2 separate regions of the Homo sapiens genome follow, and region 1 is linked to region 2. The links come from fine-mapping of genetic effects on gene expression. A gene starts in region 2. The other region holds a variant in brackets. All regions are shown on one strand. Distances are between the middles of the regions. Region 1 holds the start of PNMA8A (PNMA family member 8A). Region 2 holds the start of PNMA8B (PNMA family member 8B).

What was found.
Region 1: its variant is fine-mapped to the expression of PNMA8B in whole blood (INTERVAL, PIP above 0.99).

The regions. Positions count from the first base shown.
Region 1 is chr19:46,463,696-46,473,695 of GRCh38, forward strand. PNMA8A (PNMA family member 8A) reads right to left here and starts at 7,868. Exons shown (of 3, transcript NM_018215.4): 1 at 7,642-7,868; 2 at 6,038-7,419; 3 at 2,808-4,882. The coding sequence starts at 7,340. The coding sequence ends at 4,866. The variant T/A (reference allele first, on the strand shown) is at 4,402.
Region 2 is chr19:46,492,404-46,502,297 of GRCh38, forward strand. PNMA8B (PNMA family member 8B) reads right to left here and starts at 3,464. Exons shown (of 1, transcript NM_020709.3): 1 at 1-3,464. The coding sequence starts at 3,062. The coding sequence ends at 1,155.

The DNA of each region.
Region 1 (10,000 bases), 29 kb before region 2:
GCTTTGGCTGGAAAAATCATTACAGTGCTCACCTCTGAGAGCTGCGGCGGGGACCGACTGGGAAGGGGCACAGGGAGGCTTTCTAGGATGATGATATTGTTCTGTAACTTGTCGCAGGGGTGGGTTACACAGGTGCCTGCCTATGTCCAAACTTATCCTTATCAGACCGTTCACTTAAGATCTGTCCATTTCACTGTATATAAATGTTTTATTTTAACTAAAAAATGAAAATGTAAAAAAAAGGAATAAATGAATAAGTAAATCAACACAACCCACTTCTTTCTCCTTGGCAGCTCTGCTAACCAGATCCCCAAATGGGCAGCTTTTTCTTGGGCCTCCTGGGTCCAGCTACTGTCACCTCCCCACTAGGCTCCCAGCTGCCACCTCACCCTCTGCAGTCTGTTCCCCACCAGGCTTCCAGGGGGAGCCTGGAAACAACCTATGTAGGATCCTGACGCTGTGTTCAGCACCCTCCCATGGCTCCCATCTCTCAGATTAAAGCTGGAATCCATCCTGGCCGCACCTGTGGGGCTTTGCACACCAGCCTCCAAAGCCCCCTGCCCTCTTGCTCCTCACCTCCTCCTTGCTTTTTTATTTTTATTTTTTTGAGACAGAGTCTTGCTCTGTCGCCCAGGCTGGAGTGCAGTGGTGCGATCTCAGCTCACTGCAGTCTCAACCTCCTGGGTTCAAGCAATTCTCCTGCCTCAGCCTCCCAAGTAGCTGGGACCACAGGCACGCGCCATCACACCTGGCTAATTTTTTTGTATTTTTAGTAGAGATGGGGTTTCACCATGTTGGCCAGGCTGGTCTTGAACTCCTGACCTCAGGTGATCTGCCCGCCTTGGCCTCCCAAAGTGCTGGGATTACAGGTGTGAGCCACTGCGCCCAGCCTTACTCACTTTCTGAAACAGATTAGAGCCTCCCTCCACGATGACTGTTCCCTCTGCCCAGGAGGCCGTTCTTGGCCAACTGCTTGTCTCACCCCTCACCCCCTTCAGGTCTGTTCAGACATCCAGTTCCCAGAGAGGCTCCCCCAACCATTGTAAGCGACAGCCAGCCGTTTCTGCACACTCACCTTGCCTGCCTATCTTCCTGTTATATTTTTCACGGCAGAGCTCCCCACCCCTCCACCTGTGTCTATATAAGGTCTGTCCTCACTCAAACGTCAGGCTCCAGGAAGCCAGGACTCTGTCTTGCTCCTGGCTGTCGTACAGCAGATTCTCAACGAACCTTGCTTGAATGGCAGCATGGGCAACCAGGACACTTTGCCCTCGAGCCCTGCTGGTGGCATCCACAGCTCTCCATCTTCCTGCAAACACTCCGGGCCAGCGCCTCCCCAGACGCACCCCTGAACAGAACACCTCCACCCGGGGCGATGAGGTTTCTTTGAAGAGAGCTTTCATGTGCCCCAACCTTGGATTCCCCCCATTTTTAGGGCACGTAGGCCTTTCATACTTTACTGACAGCCTGGGTGTAACCAGTAGGAGTGACTATTATTGTGGGAGGTACTTAAACATCTTGGTCAAATAGGGCTTTTCCCATTGTGGGGGTGTGGGGGCACCCAATAAATAGAGCTTCATCCAGATGCTTCTATGAGTACACGGCAGTTCCTAACGAGCTCCGCGTCCTCAAATCCCAGCTTCCCTTTTGGTCTCTTTCGCATCTTTCCTCATAATCTCCATTCACTTTCACAAAACCTCAACCTGGACCCCTAAGGACACTTCCGTTTCCCCAAGTCTGAATTATTCCACCTGAAGCTCTCCAACCTGTATTATTAATAGAATTCTTGGCTGGGCGTGGTGGCTCACGCCTGTCATCCCAGCACTTTGGGAGGCTGAGGTGGGCGGATCACGAGGTCAAGAGATCAGAGATCGAGGCCATCCTGGCCAACATGGTGAAACTCCATCTCTACTAAAAAAAATACAAAAATATTAGCTGGGCGTGGTGGCGCACCCCTGTAGTCCCAGCTACTTGGGAGGCTGAGGCAGGAGAATCGCTTGAACCCGGGAGGCAGAGGTTGCAGTGAGCTGAGATCATGATACTGCACTCCAGCCTAGGAGACAGAGCGAGACTCCGTCTCAAAAAAAAAAAAAAAAAATTCTCAGGAGAAACTGTTTAAGACGCAGATAACTATGTACAACCCCGAAGAGATCCTGAATCAGCAGGTAGAGCCACGAAATGGTACCTTGAACAGATTCCAAGTGACTGATGTAGTGGCCACCCTGGTTCAGGAGTTCCTGGGGAGGGGCAGGGGAGGGCCAGAAGAAAACTATATTTTTAGCTAAAAGACCTCAGCTTCTGGCTTGGCATGGTGGCTTACACCTGTAATCCCAACGCTTTGGGAGGCCGAGGTGGGCAGATCACTTGAGCCCAGGAGGTAGAGGCTGCAGTGGGCTGAGACTGTGCCACTGCACTCCCACCTGGGTGACAGAGCGAAACTCCATCTCAAAAAAAAAAAAAAAAAAAGACCTTGGCTTCTGTGTGAGGGAATAGGAAGGGAGGGAAAGGTTTTCATTTTCCAGCTGTTTATAAAAAAATAAACTGGTACTTTGAGGTAATTTGCGTCACCAGATACCTATTCTAGAAACCCCAAGATCTGTGGGACATCCTTCCACATCAGTGGAAAGCCATTCGCAAAGAGGACAAACGGCTTCTTCTCTCATGGATCATTAACAATTCTCAAAGCTTGAACCCGTATCTGATAACCAGTCACATCTGGCTGGGGGCACTGTTTGAGGAAAGGGGAACCCTTTCCTCAAATTTAATAGTCCATGCAATCCTCACCTACAAGAGACTTAACAGGACACTTAATTTGCTAAACTTTATTTTATACATACACGTTTACATTTACTAGTCATGGTGTCAACTTGTTAACACAACGAAGCCCTAATGGACCCGTTTTGAAATTAGAAGCTGGACAGTTACAGGCTTTGGTCTCTTCAAGAATCCAATTCACCCCTGGGTTTCGCTTGGCACACACCCCAGGAGAACGTCGATGCACACAGCTGTGTAGCTGCAAACGGAAACCACTCTCTTTTCTCTCGTATTTTTCAGTCAGACTCACTCAGGATTTTGAAATGAATCATCACGAGAAATTTGTTTTAAAGTTGAATCACTGAGAACATCTAACAACTGTTCACATTCTTTATCACAAAAACTGAAGTCGGAAAAGACGCCCTGAAAACTTGCAAGGGCTAATACTCTATGATAGAATATTACTACTGTTCACCATGTTAATACATTTACTTACTACCATACACCTGAACAGTCACGGCAGAACAAGAGCATGTGAATGACGAAAGGAAACTTGCTTTCAGGGTGTCAGATTATAGAACATGCACAGGAATTTCTTCCACTTCTAACCTCGCTCATCAGTCACATTTACAAGAAACTCAATTTTAAGCAAAGAGATGCCTGAAATAACTAAGACGTGTACAAAAACAAGTTAACCTATGAACACAAGGTAATATTCTGATAGTCTTCGATGTGACTTCCAACATATCTGAGTAGTCACTTTTCAGTTTTTTAAACACGTGAGAAAAATAGATTTGGATTACATCTTTGTGGACGGCTACGATACAGTTTGGAAACCATTATCTCAGGGACCCTGCTCTCTCCTCTACACATGCGCACGCAAACACACACACACACACACACAATGACACATGGTGGTCTGGTCTAATATAGTGTGTCTGAATTCAGAGGGCAGACATTAACAGCCAAGTTTTGTTTTTTTGAGAGAGAGTCTCACTCTGCTGCCCAGGCTGGAGTGCCGTGGCACAATCTCGGCTCATTGCAACCTCTGCCTCCTGGATTCAAGCAATTCATCTGCCTCAGCCTCCTGAGTAGCTGGGATTACAGGCGCGCGCCACCACGCCCAGCTAATTTTTGTAGAGATGGGGTTTCACCATGTTGGTCAAGCTGGTCTTAAACGCCTGACCTCGTGATCGACCTGCCTCAGCCTCCCAAAGTGCTGGGATTACAGGCGTGAGCCACCGTGCCCGGCCAACAGCCAAGTTTTAAAAGATTTTTTTCCCCTCTTACTATAATGTGAGTAGTGACCTTCTGCTGCAAAGATGGTGACAGTTTGGTGCAAAGATGGTGACAGTTGGGTAGATGGATGGAATTAGAGCTGGGGACCTAGGAATGCCTGCGTCCTTCCCTATAATCACCCCCCTTCCCCACAGGATTCCTGAGAGGGCTCATCCCAAATGGGAATCAAAGTGCCATTTTTACTAACAGACTCTAAAACTCAAAGACTTTGAGGTCTAGGCAGACATTCTTTTTCCCTAAAACTAACTCTTGGGACCTCCTGGCTAGATAACTGGAGGATGGAAGCTGGAGACTGAAGGAGCAATAAAACCAGGTTTGCAGCGAAGGTCCTGGCTTAACTTACCCCGC[T/A]GGTTACACGAGAGGAAGGCGGGAGGAAGAATATGGCAGGGCCACCCAGCTCTTCCAAATGCCAGGGCCTGCAGAGGTCGCTGACCATTCCGAGGAGGGAGCAAGGCGTGGGGGAGAAAAGCTGAACATGGATGAGTGTAACAGTGACCCTGCTCATGCATAAAGGGGAATGAATGTTCTAGAATTTTCCCAATCCTCTTACCAACTCTCCTGCCTCCGAAGAGAAGGTGAGTAGAGAAGGCGGTGAAACGGCAGGCCTGGTAGAGAAAAGGGCATAGAGATCCACCTCCCTTCCCCAACTCCCTCCCACCCAAGACCTCACCTATCGTTTACCTCAGGGCCAGATCTCTATCAACAGGGGCCCTAAGAGAGTCCAAAGTCTTATTCAGTGACAAGAGAGAACTTGGTTGACTTGGTACTTCTTCCTTGTTCTTTCAACTCCTCAGTATGGGTGGTCCCCCAGATCAAACCTTTCTGGATTCTGCAAATAAATGAGAGAACAGATCAAGAAGGGAAGCAGAGAGGTGTCATTAGGAAATGCATTACTTCCAAGAAATTTCTGGGTCCCTGAACATTTCTATTCCCCAGCCAGGTCTCTAGAAAACTTCACCCTTAAAGCCACATACCCTGCAAACACCATAACTCCAAAGTATTAATATTTTTTTTGGGGGGAGGGGGGAACAGGGTTTCACTCTATCGCCCAGGCTGGAGTGCAGCAGTGTGATCTTGGCTCCCTGCAACCTCCACCTCCCAGGTTCAGGGAGGGTAAGAGCCCAGACCGCCCTTCCAGGAGCCCCTGAAGGCCGATGCTGGAGACATCTGGTGGGCAGATGTCTGGAGGCCAATCCCAGGCCTTGGCCTCCCCAGTAGCTGGGATTACAGGCACAAACCACCATGCCCAGCTAATTTTTGTATTTTTAGTAGAGATGGGGTTTCACCATGTTGGCCAGGCTGGTCTCGAACTCCTGACCTCAGGTGATCTGTCTGCCTTGGCCTCCCAAATCATTAAATTCTTTTTTTTTTTTTTGGAGACAAGAGTCTCACTCTCGTCACCCAGGCTGGAGGGCAGTGGCACAATCTAGGCTCACTGCAACCTCCACCTCCCGGGTTCAAGAGATTCTCCTGCCTCAGCCTCCCGAGTAGCTGGGATTACAGGTATGTGGCACCACACCCGGCTAATTTTTTGTATTTTTAGTAGAGACGGGGTTTCACCATGTTGGCCAGGCTGGTCTTGAACTCCTGACCTCAGGCGATCTGCCCACCTTGGCTTCCCAAAGTGCTGGGATTACAGGCATGAGCCACCAAGCCTGGGCCCAAACCATTAAATTCTCATCAAGGAAGATGGGTCAGATGGAGTGGCAAATGACCACAGTGACACTCATTGTGGGTTTCCTCTGCCACCTCCTGCCCACCAGATGTCTCCAGCATCGGCCTTCAGGGGCTCCTGGAAGGGCGGTCTGGGCTCTTACCCTCCTCAACTGGTGTGTCATCCACCTCCTGCCATGCACCAGGGTCCTCCTCATCACCCGCTTGACCCACCACCTCCTCGGGCTCCTCTGCCCCACCTGCCACTCCTGCTCCTCCTGCCTCATCCACTTGCTGGCACGAGCCCAGTCACTTCTGCTATCATTCTCACCATTGGTGGCACGCCGAGGAGAGCCTTCTGGCTTGGCCTTCGGACCCCTAGAGGTTGAGGCTGTTGCCTCGGCAGGCTGCTGGCCCCGAGGGGCCTTCTGATCTGATGCCTCCCTTCTTGAGCCTGGCCCTTTCTTTGGCATCACCGGCTTCTTCCTGCCATCTTCTGAGTCAACCAAGACGTAGGAGACAGGGCCCAAGCTCACCTTCTTCTTCTTCCTCATGGGAGCGGGGTTCTTGGCAGACACCCAGGCCACGGCCTTCTTCTTTGGTGGGCTTTCATGGCCACCATCTTGGTCTGACTCAGAGGCGCCTCCTGGGCTCTCGGCTTCTGCCCGGGCATCCTGAGGTGGCTCTCTGGGACCCTTCCAGGCACATTTCGCCATGGGCTTCTTCAAAGCCAACTCCTCCTTATTCACACAGGGCTTTCTGCTGCCCTTGATCGGCTCTGAGATCGCCATGCTTTCAGCATCACCCACCTCAGGATCCTCCAAGTTAGCTGTGCTGTTGGAATTGATGCCTTTGGGTTTTTTCCAGGGCACTGCTTCCTGCCTGGAGTTCTTCTTCTGCTTCTTTCTCCTGGAGCGAGACTTAGCTCCAGCCCTGCGAACCAAAGGTTTGGTAGGCTCATGCTGGTCTTCCGTGGCATTCCAGTTGTTGGGGGTCTCTGCCTTTAAGGCAGAACCCACCTCTGCTGCAAGCCCCGGTTCTTTCTTCACCTTCCTCCCTGCTGCTAAAGCCCAGGCTGCCATCTCCTCGAATTCAGCGGCCTCCTGGGCCCTGGCTTCCTCCCGGCTGCGGATCTCGGCATCCATGCAGAAGATGATCTGCACCACTGCTCCCAGAAGCACCCCCAGAGCTTCTGCCCAGTTCTCTGGGGGCTGATGCTGGTTCTGGGACAGGGTGGGGTGGTTGAGCTGGAGCAGGCGGACCACATCCTCCCAGGTGCGCCCCTCGGCATCCAGGAATTCATTCAGATTTTTTAAAAACTCGGCATCCTGGGTAGGGTCTCTACAGACCACTCTCCAGACACCACCCCTTCCTGGGAATTCACGGGGGATGGTGCTCAGATTCACACCTTCACCAACCTCAATGAGGGCAGCTTTAACATTCTCTTCCCTCACAAAAATCTTGTTGAGCACGCGGTACGGGCCCAGTGGGGAGAGGACCCCATTCAAGGTCTCCTCAATTTCTGCCTGCCCACAGTCCTCTGGGATGCCTGTGACCAACAAGGACCTGTGGATGTCCACTTCCATTCCCCTGCACCAATCCTCCAGAAGGTTCATCGCCATGGTCTTGGACATTTAGCGGCTCTGAACCTACTATGTGTAGTAAATAGTCTATCAGGTGGACGTGGGCTGCAGCGGTCTCCAAACAGTAATCCTGCAAGGTGACAAGGGAGCGAGGTCACGTTCCCAGGAAGATGACCAAGCTCACAGATCCTAGCTGCCCCCTCCGCGGCTGGCCTGCAGGAGGCCTGGCGCTTTCCCAACACCCTCCTCCCCAACCCAGGCCCCGGTGCTCACACGTGTCCCTGAATCTGCAGCAAAAGGCCCTAGGACCCTCCCCCGGGCCTGACGCTCCGCCTGCCCAGCCGGGACTTACTTGGCAGATCAGCCTCCGACCGCCCAGCCAGGCCAAGGAGACGCAGTGGAATGCAGCCGTTTCCCAGTCGCTGGCTCCGGCTACCCCGGCGCCGCTGCTAGAGGCAGAAAGGGCCAAGAAGGCGCCGTCCGCCCCCGCTCCGGCCCAGGCGGGTCACGGGGCGTCCAGACTCGATGCCGTTAGCGGCGAGAAGCCGAGGTTGGCGTCGCAGCGCGCGCCTGCGCACTGGCTCCCGCACCGCCGCTCGGGGGTCTTGGGCTGCGCAGGTGCCGACGTCTCCATGGCAACCGGGCGTGGGTTGCTAGGGCTGAGCCCGGCCGGCGCGCCGGCGCTGCAATTGGACCTAGGGAGCCGGGTGCAAGAGTGGCCTGTTCAGGTCGCAGAGCAAGCGGGTCTGGATACACTCCGGTGGCGCCTCCACGGAGGCCCTCTTTCAACCCAAGTGGGCCTCGCGAACGGGGGTTAGGTCGATGAGAAGCGCCAACACCTATGGCTGCACCCACTGACTGTATTATCCTCTGCCCCACCTGTTGGATTCACCCAACGCAACTCTTGGGAGACACTAGAAATCAAGAAAGGAGGAAAACGAGGCTTTAATCTTCTTGGGTTCCTCCAACAGCAGGTGCAGTTCCTGTTGGGCTTGTAGCCTTCTCTCTTACAAGCTGCTGGGTTCTTCCAGGAATTTCCAGAAACTTCTAGAAATTTCTTAGTCTCCTCCCCGACCCCTTCTAGCATGAGGATAATGCCTCGCCTTTTCTTGTTTCCTCAACGTGATTCAGGGCAGGTTCTTGGCATCCTCCAGGCAGGGGACAATGTTACAGCTCAGTGACTGCCCCTACAGAGAAGTGTTAGTCCAAACTGCAACCATTTTGTAAGCCCTGACTATTTTGCAGATCTTGGTCAAAGTGAAATATTCCACGGGGGTTCGGGCCAATGAGAAACATCCTGCCTAATCACCTGACCACAAGGCGGACAAAGGCCCAGCTAAAGAAACATTATCATACCCTATCGTGCAAAGGCCCAACTGAAGAAACATCCCTATCATATTCTGCTGGGAGAAAGTGCAGAGAACACCACATTCCACCAGAACAAGGGCCAGAACCGCCTCATCATGGAACCATCTTATCAACATCCTGCTGGGCAGCAAACCATACTGCTCAGACCCCTCCCACCCATAACTATAAGTACCCCCAGCCTATAAGCAGCAGTGGGCTCTGGCATTAGGCTGGTTACCCACTTCCACAGGTGTCTGCAGTATACCTGAGTTGCTGTTGAGCCGCCTTCTGTCTGTGTGTCTTTAACCCTCACCTTCCCTCCAAAACCTAACAAGGAGGGCTACCCTCTAGGCAGTGTGCTGAGAATAGCACCTCGGGGCAAGGCTGCAGTCACATTTATACCCACTTTTAATGACGTGCTAATTAAGGGGTGGGTTTTCAGAATTAGCAAATTGGCAGTAACTTATGGGTGTTGCCATGGCAATGGTAAACTGTCATGGTGCTGGCAGGCATGTCTTATGGAGAGAGGCTTTCGGTGCCTTTTCCAGGTTTTGGCCAGTCTTCAATGTGATCCTCAGTGGAGTCCCCTGGGCCTCCTACCTCAACCTTGCTGCCCATGAGCAAGAACTTTGTTAATAGTTTATTAATGCCCAGTGCTGTGGCTCACGCATGTAATCCCAACACTTTGGGAGGCTGAGGAGGGCGGATCACTTGAGCTGGGGAGTTCGAGACCATCCTGGGCAACATGGCAAAACCCCGTCCCTACCAAAAACGCAAAAAATTAGCCAGGTGTGATAGGGGTCACCTGTGGTCTCAGCTATTCGGGAGGCTGAGGTGGGAGGATTGCTTGAACCCAGGAGACCCTGTCTCAAAAAAAATAAACTAATTAATTAAGCACTCCTATGAGACTCGGTTGGACTGGCCATCTGTTTTTTTTTTTTTTTTTTTGCCAGTCCCTCACTGATCCACCTACCAATGTCCCTTCCTGGCTGTGTGATCTTAGAGAAATAATTTGACCCCGCTGAGCTTATTTCTTTTCTCTGTAATAGGAATTCTAATAAAAAATCTTCCTGATTTGGAAGTTTTGAAGATTCGGGGGGATCTCATCTGAAAGATGCATGGAAGTACAATTTGGGCCTTGGTATTCAACCAAAATCTGTTCTTTGGGTTCATTTTTGAAACTGACATTTGCAAGGCCAAATAGCCAAATGTTCATTTCACTGTCATCTCTGGCATTCCTAAATTTGGGCATCATCAATACTTGTGTGATTGCCCAAGTTTCCATCATATTTTGTGCTAAAAAGTTGTGTCATTCAAATCGTTAACCTCTGATTATTCACATAATTCACACCGAATATTCCAAT
Region 2 (9,894 bases):
GTGAAGCCTCACAGCACCGGCCCGCCTACTCTGGAACCTCCAGGGCAGGGCTGGGGTTTCCTCCCCAGGTCATTTCATCCCCTGTAAGGAGGGACACGCGGCCGGCTTCTGCACTGCCCAGGTGAGCCTCTGTCCCTCACAGTGCCCTTCGGGGCCCCTCTGGCCTTTAATTCACTCAGGGGGTGAACCCAGGGACTTTCAAGTCTTTTAGTAAGGGCTGCAAGGCCAGCGCTGAGCGGTGGGTCAGCTCCACTGGAGAGGGGGCACCCAGGGGAGCCACAGCCTATGGGAGGGGCCAGGGCCCACTCAGCCCAGAAGAACCAAAACTGGATTTTAAGTGAATTACCCCAAATTGAACACCTCTGCAAATAATTAGAATGTTGGGAAACACTGCAGTCTGAGTGACAAATTCAACTTGTGGTCAGGGGCAGGTGGCCTTGGCCTGGGGCTGGTTCCTTTGTTATCAGGGGCGCCCCAGTAGGCAGGGCTGGCATGTGTCTTCCCTCTGCTCCCCCCTCCCCCTCCTCCTCCTCTTTCCCTTCTCCCACCGTTCCTCTCCCCTTTCCTCCTCCTCCCCTTCCCAACCGCCTTCTATCTCTCAGACTTTCCTTTCTGGAATCATCTCTTCCCCTGGCTGGGAGCTGGGGCCTCCCCTGGCTGAGAGTTGCGCCCTGACACGCGCTGCGCGGCTGGTGACTGAGCCTCCACCACAGACCCAGGGCCCAGTCAGACTGGGGTAGGGGCGACAGCGGCCTACAGCACCTGCCAGGCGCAGGCCCCGAGAGCGCCACGAAGAGCCCTGCTCGCCTCTGCAGGTGCCCGGCGTCCACACACACACCCCCTCCGGGGGCAACCCGGGCCCCCAATCCTGGTCCACTTGGCGCGTCCCCATCTCGGCCCTGCGCTGCTGCCTCGGGCGCCCACTTCTCTTTCCTCCTCCCATCCGGGCTTCCTCCGTCGGGATCGCTGGCGCCCCCGGCCTGCGAGGGCCCGAGAGGGGAACGTGACGCTGGCAAAACGCGGCCCGGGCGCGCTGTGAAGCGAGGAGATTGCGTCTGCGGAGGACAGGAAGAGGGGAGGGGAGGGCGGGGGCCACAGGCGGGCGGGTGCCCTGCGGGGCCTGCTCGCAGCCTGGGCGGCTTCTTGGGGGGCCACTAGCGGCATTTAGGGGGCAGCCTCCGGCCCCGACGGGCCTTCTTCCCGCGCGCGGCCTTGGATCCAGTGGGCGCCTGGCCCTTGGCCTCGCCTGCCCTGGCATGGGCCCCGGCGCCCGCGCTCCCCTTCTTCTTCCTGCTTCCTGCGGCGTCGTCCTGGGCCGAGCCCCGGCTCCCGGCTTTCTTCTCGGGAGTGACGCCCCGGCCTCGGCCTCGGCCGCCCGCGCGGGTTTTGCGGGCCCCGGAAGCGGTGGGAGGCGCGCCGGCCGGAGTCAGGCCCCTGGGGGCCGTGCGCGCCCTCTTGGCCCGGGGCTTCCTGGATGCCCTGTCCTCCGGCTCCGACGCCTCGCTCTCGGTGTCCTCCGACTCCTCCTCGGACTGTTCGTCCGAAGCCTCCTCCGACCCCTCGTTGGACCCCATGTTCTCCCGGGCGGCCAGGAGCGCCAATACCTCCCCCAGTTTGCCTTTGGGGTATTTGTACTTCCCGCCTTCCCAGGCGTTTTCTTTTTCCTCCTTCATCACCTCCGCCATGTCCTGGGCAGCCAGGAGCGCCACCAGCTCCAGAAGACCCCCTTCGTCCTCACGGTGCTCGCTCCAGCCCCCGAAGAGGCCACGCCCAGCCTTCTTCGCCTGGGGAGGGAGATCCGGCTGCGCCAAGGTGGAAATGCACTCCCGGAGGTCCCCGTCATCCCCGGCCTTGCGCAGGACCACGGCGTCCACCTCGCGGCCCGCCTCTTCCACCTTCACGCGGGTCCCGTTAGTGTCCTTGGACATGACGGACAAGACCTGTCGGAGGGGGTCTCGCTTGTCTTTCTCGTCGCTCCAGCCCAGCGACTCGATAACAGAAGCGATTTTCAACATCTCCTCCCGGGCCCAGGGGTCCGACGGGTCGGTATAGGCCACAATGGCCACGAACTCAGGATTATCCAACTCCTCTGTTTCTTGGTCCCCACTTTCCTGCGAGTCGCTCTCCGAAGTGTCGCTGTCCACCGGCTCCTCGTCCGGGGTGTCTCTCACAGCCAGCAGGGCCACTAAGTCGGGGACACCATTTTTGTCTTCTTTGGTGTTCAAGCGGATGGATTCGGCCCCAGCTGGCTCCTTCTCTGCCTCTTCTTTCTTCGATTTGTCGGTGACGGTGACCAGAGCCAAGAACTCGCGGGGACCGTCTTCTTCCCCCTCGGAGTTGCAGGGCGCCCACTGCCTAACCAGCTCCCTGGCAGCGGCCTGCAGCGTGGCGTACAGCGCGCTCTGGTCCTCTTCTCCGCTCAGGTCGCCCTGGTCGATCTCCTCGATCACGATGCCCAGGCTCTCGTCGGAAGAGTCCTCGGCCTCACTCCTCGCGGGAGCAGACGGCCGTCCTCCTCGGCTTCTCTTCTTGCCCTTCTGGGTCAACCTGTTGCGTCTGGTTCTGTTTCTGCGACCCCGACGGCCCCTCCTTGGGTTCCTGGCTGCCCCAAGAAGCGAGCCAGCCTGCCCTGTTACCTCCCCAGAATCCTGGGCCTGCGTCTCCGAAGCGGGAGGGGTGGGTGCCTCCCCGGGGGTCCCAGCCTCCGCGGCCTGCGTGGGCCCGTCATCCAGCAGCAGGCGTCTCATCTGCCTCAGGACCCTCGTGTCCTGCGCACGGTCCTTCCACAGAACCCTCCAGACCCCATCCTTGCCTGGGATCTCCCTGGGAATGGCAGCGTGATTGACGTCCTCCACAAACTCCACCAGGGCGGCCTGGGCCTTCTCGTTCATCAAAGCCTTCATGTGTCGCAACCTGAACGTGCCCAGGGGCAGGAGGGTCGGCTGCAGGACGGCTTCGACGTCTGCCTGCTCCAGGCCCTCCGGGATGCCGGTGACCAGCAGGGCCCTGTGCGCGTCCACGTCCAGGCTCCGGCACCAGTCCTGCAAAAGGCTCATGGCCATGGTGCAGCCCCCTTGGCGCTGATCTTGGGGCAGCAGGGAGCCCGAGATAGGGGTGGGCTGCAGCGCACGGTGTCAATGCAACCCTAGAAAGCCACTTGCAGGGCTTAGAGTCCCGGTTCCGGTGAATGTGGCAAGGCTGGAGTGGGGCTCGGGGCTCGGGGGCTCTAGCTGCCTGCTGGCCGGCTGGACGCAGTGACCTTCCCCCGGGACCCCTCTCCAGAGCTGTCTGAGGATCCGCGGGGGGCTTACGTGTCTGCTTTCCAGGACAGCTCCCTCCCTCTCTCCCTGACACAGGCCTGAGTGACTCGGCACCGCAGCCAGGTGCAGGGGGGCGGCGCCGAGTGCACCTGGAGAGGCGTGGGAGGTAGCAGCCGCAGCTTGCCTGGCGCTCGCGCCGCGTCTGAGCGCGCACCCTGGGCCTGAATCTCAGCAGTTCCGCTGCGACGCGGCTGCTCGCGCGTGCGCCTGCGCAGAGGGAGCCGCACACCCTCCCCTGTCCCCCGCCCAACCGTCTCCATGGCAACGGTGCAGCCTTGAGCTGGGGTCTGCGTCGCTGTGGCCTGAGACGCTTTTCTTAAAGGTCCCGATGACAAGGACTTGGGGCCTGGAAGCACCACTTTCATTAACCAGCAAAAAACAAGGCCGAAACCACAGAGGGCCAGAAATCACTCAAGGATACCCGACCTCATTCAGGGGATAGAGGCCTCCTTCCAGAGGGTACCGGCATCACTGGGGGTTACAATTCCCCCTTCCAGGGGCCAGGTGGAATTCAGGATTATATAGGCCTAAATCAAAGGGCACTGGCCTTGCAGCGTAGGACCAGGACTTACTCGGGATACTGGCCTCATTCACAGTATATGGGTCTCAGTATCAAATAGGGGGGCCCAGGCACCACCTGTGAGCAAGACACCATTCAGGGTATATGGGCCTCACTTGCAGGGTACAGGCCCCACTCGATGGGACCGGCCCTCACTCCCATACACGTTCCTGTATTCTGAACTATGCATGCACAATAAATCCTGTGGTTTTGCACACGCTTTGAGCATATGTATGATTGTGAGACCAGGCATGAATTTTGCAAGAAAGCATTTCCCTTGACTGGGACAGCAGACTGGGGCGTGTGAACGTCAGTCATAGCTACTGTAAACATGCATTTGCTTCTCTGTCCCTTGTTGGCCATGAGGCTGTCCCCTACTCTATATGAATCTGGCTCTGTAGACCAGCTGGTAGGTTTATATCTCAACCATCATCCCTACCTCAAAGGGTTTTGTTTTTTTGTTGTTGTTTGTTTTGGAGATGGAGTCTTGCTCTGTCACTCAGGCTGGAGTGCAATGGCACAATCTTGGTTCACTGCAACTTCCGCCTCCCATGTTCAAGCGGTTCTCCTGCCTCAGCCTCCTGAGTAGCAAGGATGACAGGCCTCCCAAGTAGCTGGGATTATAGGCATACACCATCACGTCTGGCAAGTTTTTGTATTTTTTGTAGAGATGGGTTTTTACCATGTTACCCAGGCTGGTCTCAAACTCCTAACCTCAAGTGATCTGCCCGCCTCAGCCTCTGAAAGTGCTGGGATTACAGGATTACATGGTGAGCCACCATGCCTGGCCTCAAAGGGTTCTCATGAGGATTAAAGGGAATAATCCAGGAAAGCATTTAGAAGAGCAGCTGGCCCACAGCTGGTGCTCCATGAAAGATGGCTAAGAGAAGTATTTGTTGAGAACTTACCATTATAAAAGCATCTGTTTTGTTGGTTTGTTTTTGAGATGGAGTCTTGCTCTGTCGCCCAGGCTGGAGTGCAATGGAGCAATCTCGGCTCACTGCAACCTCCACCACCCGGGTTAAAGCCATTCTCCTGCCTCAGCCTCCCGAGTAACTGGGACTACAGGCATGCACCACCATGCCTGACTAGTTTTTTGTTTGTTTGTTTGTTTGAGAGAGAGTCTCGCACTGTCACTCAGGCTGGAGGGCAGTGGCGTGATCTTGGTTCACTGCAACCTCCGCCTCCCGGCTTCAAACCATTCTCCAGCCTCAGCCTCCCAAGTAGCTGAGATTACAGGTGCCCGCCACCACGCCCAGCTAATTTTTTGTATTTTTAGTAGAGACGGGGTTTCACTATGTTGGGCAACCTTGTCTCAAACTCCCAACCTCGTGATCCGCCCGCCTCGGCCTCCCAAAGTGCTGGGATTACAGGTGTGAGCCACCGTGCCCGGCCTAGTTTTGTATTTTTAGTAGATGGATTTTCACCATGTTGGCCAGGCTGGTCTGGAACTCCTGACCTCGGGTGATCTGCCGGCGTCGGCCTCCCAAAGTGCTGGGATTACAGGCACGAGCCACCGTGCTCAGCCCAAAGCATCTGTTAATAAACAAATAAATAGGAAACCAAAACACCTCGAGTTTTTTGTTTTTGCCACCAGGCCCAACCCCTTACTTTTGTGTTTGGATTTTTTTATGTTTAAGGAGAGTTTAACTGCAAGGTTACCACAGCAACTGGGCAAACCGCTTACTCACTCCTATTTTCCCCCACTTTTTCCTCCTCTGATCTTCCTGATCCACAGATGGATGTGATGTGACTCTTTTCTCCAGAGCAGCGTTGTCCAGCAGGAATAGAATGCCAGCCCCAAATTCGAACCGCACGTGCAATGTTAAAACTCCTAGTTGCAGCCAGCCAACACTGACCTCAGGTGGTCCACCCACCTCAGCCTCCCAAAGTGCTGGGATTACAAAGTGTCATTTTTGACATTTGAATCTCCAATCTAGGCTGGGCATGGTAGCGCACGCCTGTAATCCCAGCTACTTGGAGGCTGAGGCAGGAGAATCACATGAACCTGGGAGGCAGAGGTTGTTGCATTGAGCCGAGATTGCGCCACTGCACTCCAGCCTGGGAGACAGAGCAAGACGCTGTCTCAAAAAAACCAAACCAAACCAAACCAAACCAAACCAAAACAAAACAAAAAACGAGCTGCTTTTTCTGCATCTATTGATCTAAAAAAAGAAGAAATATGGTGACTCACCATGTAATCCTGTAATCCCAGCACTTTCAGAGGCTGAGGCGGGCAGATCACTTGAGGTTAGGAGTTCGAGACCAGCCCGGGCAACATGGTGAAAACCTATCTCTACAAAAAATACAAAATTTCCTAGGGGGCCACCTTCAATAAATAGAAAAGAGGGAAGAAAAATGAATTTTAAGAATAGATTTTGGCCAGGCGCAGTGGCTCACGCCTGTAATCCCAGCACTTTGGGAGGCCGAGGCAGGCAGATCACTTGAGCCCAGGAGTTTGAGACCGGCCTGGCCAACATGGCAAAACCTCGTCTCTACAAAAAATACAAAAGTTAGCCAGGCTTAGTGACACACATCTGTAGTCCCTGATACTCAGGAAGCTGAGGTAGGAGGATTGCTTCAGCCCAGGAGATCAAGGCTGAAGTGAGAGATGATCATGCTACACTGCACTCCAGCTTGGGCAAGAGAATGACCCTGTCTCAAAAAAAAAAAAAAAAAAAAAAAAAAAAAAAAAAAAAAAAAGGAAAAGGAAAAAGAAAAAGAAAATAAAGAATATATATTATTTATCCCGAAATATACAAAGTGTTGTCATTTGCACAAGTTGTCAATGTAAAACAATTATTTATGAGCTATCAGACACTCTCTTTTCATAATGAGTCCCTTTGGAGTAGCCGTATTTCAAGGGCTCAGCAGCCACACAGGGCCATTGGGAATTTGTTTGCAAGAATTAATTAGGGGGAGAGAGAGAGAGAGAGAGAGTGTGTGTGTGTGTGAATACACTCAGCACAACTGTTATTTATAACTGCAAGATTGGAAAACACAACAAAAAGAGAAACAGGAAGCTTGCACTTTGTGTGTGTGTGTGTGTGTGTGTGTGTGTGTATTTTAGAGTCAGAGTCTTGCTGTCTCCCAGGCTAGAGTGCAGTGGCATGACCATGGCTCACTGCAGTCTTGAACTCCTGGCTTCAAGCACCTCTCCCACCTCAGCCTCCAGAGTAGCTGGAACTGCAGCACACCACCACGCCTGGCTAATTTTATTTTTTGTAGAGATGGGGTCTTGTTATGTTGCCCAGGCTGGTCTCAAACTCCTGGGCTCAAGTGATCCTCCTTCCTTGGCCTCCCAAAATGCAGGGATTGCAGGCGTGAGCCATCATGCCCGATGAAGCTGACACTTTTCTAAGTCGTTGTGGATAACCACAGGTGAAATTCTTGTAAAAATGAAGATTCATATACCATATAACCCACCCATTTAAAGTGCACAACTCAATGGCTGTTAGTTCATTCAGAGTTGTGTGACCAACACCACGATTGATTTTAAAACATTTTCATCACCTCAAAAAGAAATCCCACACTGCTTAGCCATCACCCTCCAACCCTCTAATCTCCCCCCAGCCCCCGGCAACCACTAATCTGCTTTCTGTCTCTACGGACTTCCCCATTCTGGACATTTCATATGAATGGAGTCATACAATATGTTGTTCCTTTGTGTCTGGCTTCTTTCACTCAGCATCATTTGTTCAGTGTTGTGTGGCAAGTGTCATCCAATACTCTGTTCCATTTATTTAGAGACAGAGTCTCGCTCTGTCACCCAGGCTGGGGTGCAGTGGCACAATCTCAGCTCACTGCAACCTCTGCCTCCCGAGTTCAAGGAGTTCTCCGAGTTCACCTGCCTCAGCCTCCCGAGTAGCTGGGATTACAGGCACCCACCGCCACACCCAGTTATTTTTGTATTTTTAGTACAGACAGGGTTTCACCATGTTGGCCAGGCTGGTCTCAAACTCCTGACCTCAGGAGTTTGCCTGCCCATCTGCCCATCTCGGTCTCCTAAAGTGCTGGGATTTCAGGTGTGAGCCACTGCACCCAGCCTCCATTCTTTTTATGGCTGAGCAATGTTCCATGGAATGGATAAATCAAATTTTCTTTATCCATTCATCAGTTGATGGACATTTGGGTTGTTTGCACTTTTGGGCTATCATGAATATGCTAGGAACATAGGAGCATGATGGATATGCTGTGTGCAAATTTCTATGTAGACATATGTTTTCATTTCTCTTGGGCAGACACTTTTAGGAGAGGAATCCCGGGGCACATGGTAACTCTATGTTGAGTCATTTGAGGGGCTGAAGGGATGCTTTTAGCAATGGTCAACGCAGAGCAAGAGTCTTTCCTACTTCCCACAAAGCCGCTGTAAGTGCTAAAATGGAGTTAGGTTCTGGACCCAGATCATTGTAGACTGATTTTTCAACAGTGTCACAGGCTGGATGGCTTAGATAACAGAAATCTATTTTCTCCCAGTTCCAGAGTCTGGAAGTCCAAGATCAAAGTGCCATCCGGGTTAGTCTTTTACATTTGCCCAATAACCAAGCAAGTCACTTTGTCTCTTCATGGCTCTGTGGCCCCAGTTTATCGTGAGGTTGTGAGGATTTAAGCGGGATGTGTGTGTGTGTGTGTGTGTGTGTGTGTGTGTGTGTGTGTGTGTTGGAACAGTGCCTGGCCCTGAGTGTTACTGGGACAAAGATTTCATTCTCACCGTGGGACAGGATGAGGTGGCACGCTGGAATGCAGAGGGGACTCCCCAGGAGAGCGTCTGGTTTATAAGAGGACCCAAAGGTACAGAGGCTGAATTATGTCTCTTTAAAATTCATATGTTGGAGCCTGGGTGTGGTGGCTCACGCGTGTAATCCCATCATTCTGGGAGGCTGAGGCAGGTGGATTGCTTGTGGTCAGGAGTTCGAGACCAGCCTGGCCAACATGGCGAAACCCCATCTCTACTAAAAATACAAAAATTAGCCAGGTGTGATGGTGAGTGGCTGGAATCCCAGCTATTCAGGAGGCTGAGGCAGGAGAACCGCTTGAACCTGGAAGGCGGAGGTTGCAGTGAGCTGAGATTGTACCACTGAACTCCAGCCTGGGTGACAGGCATGACTGTCTCTAAATAAATAAATAAAATAAAATAAAATAAAATAAAATAAAATAAAATAAAATAAAATTCATATGTTGGGCTGTGTGTGGTGGCTCACACCTGTAATCCCAGCACTTTGGGAGGTTAAGGCAGGCAGATCACTTGAGGCCAGGAGTTCAAGACCAGCCTGCCCAACATGGTGAAACCCCATCTCTACCAAAAATACCAAAATTAGCTGGTCATGGCCAGGCATGGTGGCTCATGCCTGTAATCCCAGCACTTTGGGAGGCTGAAGTGGGTGGATCATGAGGTCAGGAGATCAAGACCATCCTGGCTAACACAGTGAAACCCCGTCTCTACTAAAAATACGCAAAATTAGCCAGGTGTGGTGGTGGGCACCTGTAGTCCCAGCCACTTGGGAGGCTGAGGCAGGAGAATGGTGTGAACCCGGGAGGCAGAGCTTGCAGTGAGCCGAGATTGCGCCACTGCACTCCAGCCTGGGCAACAGAGTGAGACTCCCGTCTGAAAAAAAAAAAAAGAAAAGAAAAATTAGCTGGTCATGTTGGCAGGTGCCTGTAATCCCAGCTACTCAGGAGGCTGAGGTGGGAGGATTGCTTGGGCCTGCCAGGTCGAGGCTGCAGTGAGCCATGACTGAGCCACTGCACTCCAGCCTGGATGACAGAGTAAGACCCTGTCTCAAAAAAAAAGAAAAAAAAAAAAAAGGATAGACTATGAACCCCAAGCCCTGTGCACAGAAGATCTTACAGGGACCAGCCAGGCAGGGACATCAGGATCCCCAACATGTCCTGCCCAGTCCCGCCCTGGGCATTTCCCCTGGAATCATGATCTCTTCTTAGGCAGAGATGAGCCTATGACTGACCAAGCCACTGCCTGTAAGGTTCCAATGGAAACAGCTGGAAGAAAGGGCGTAA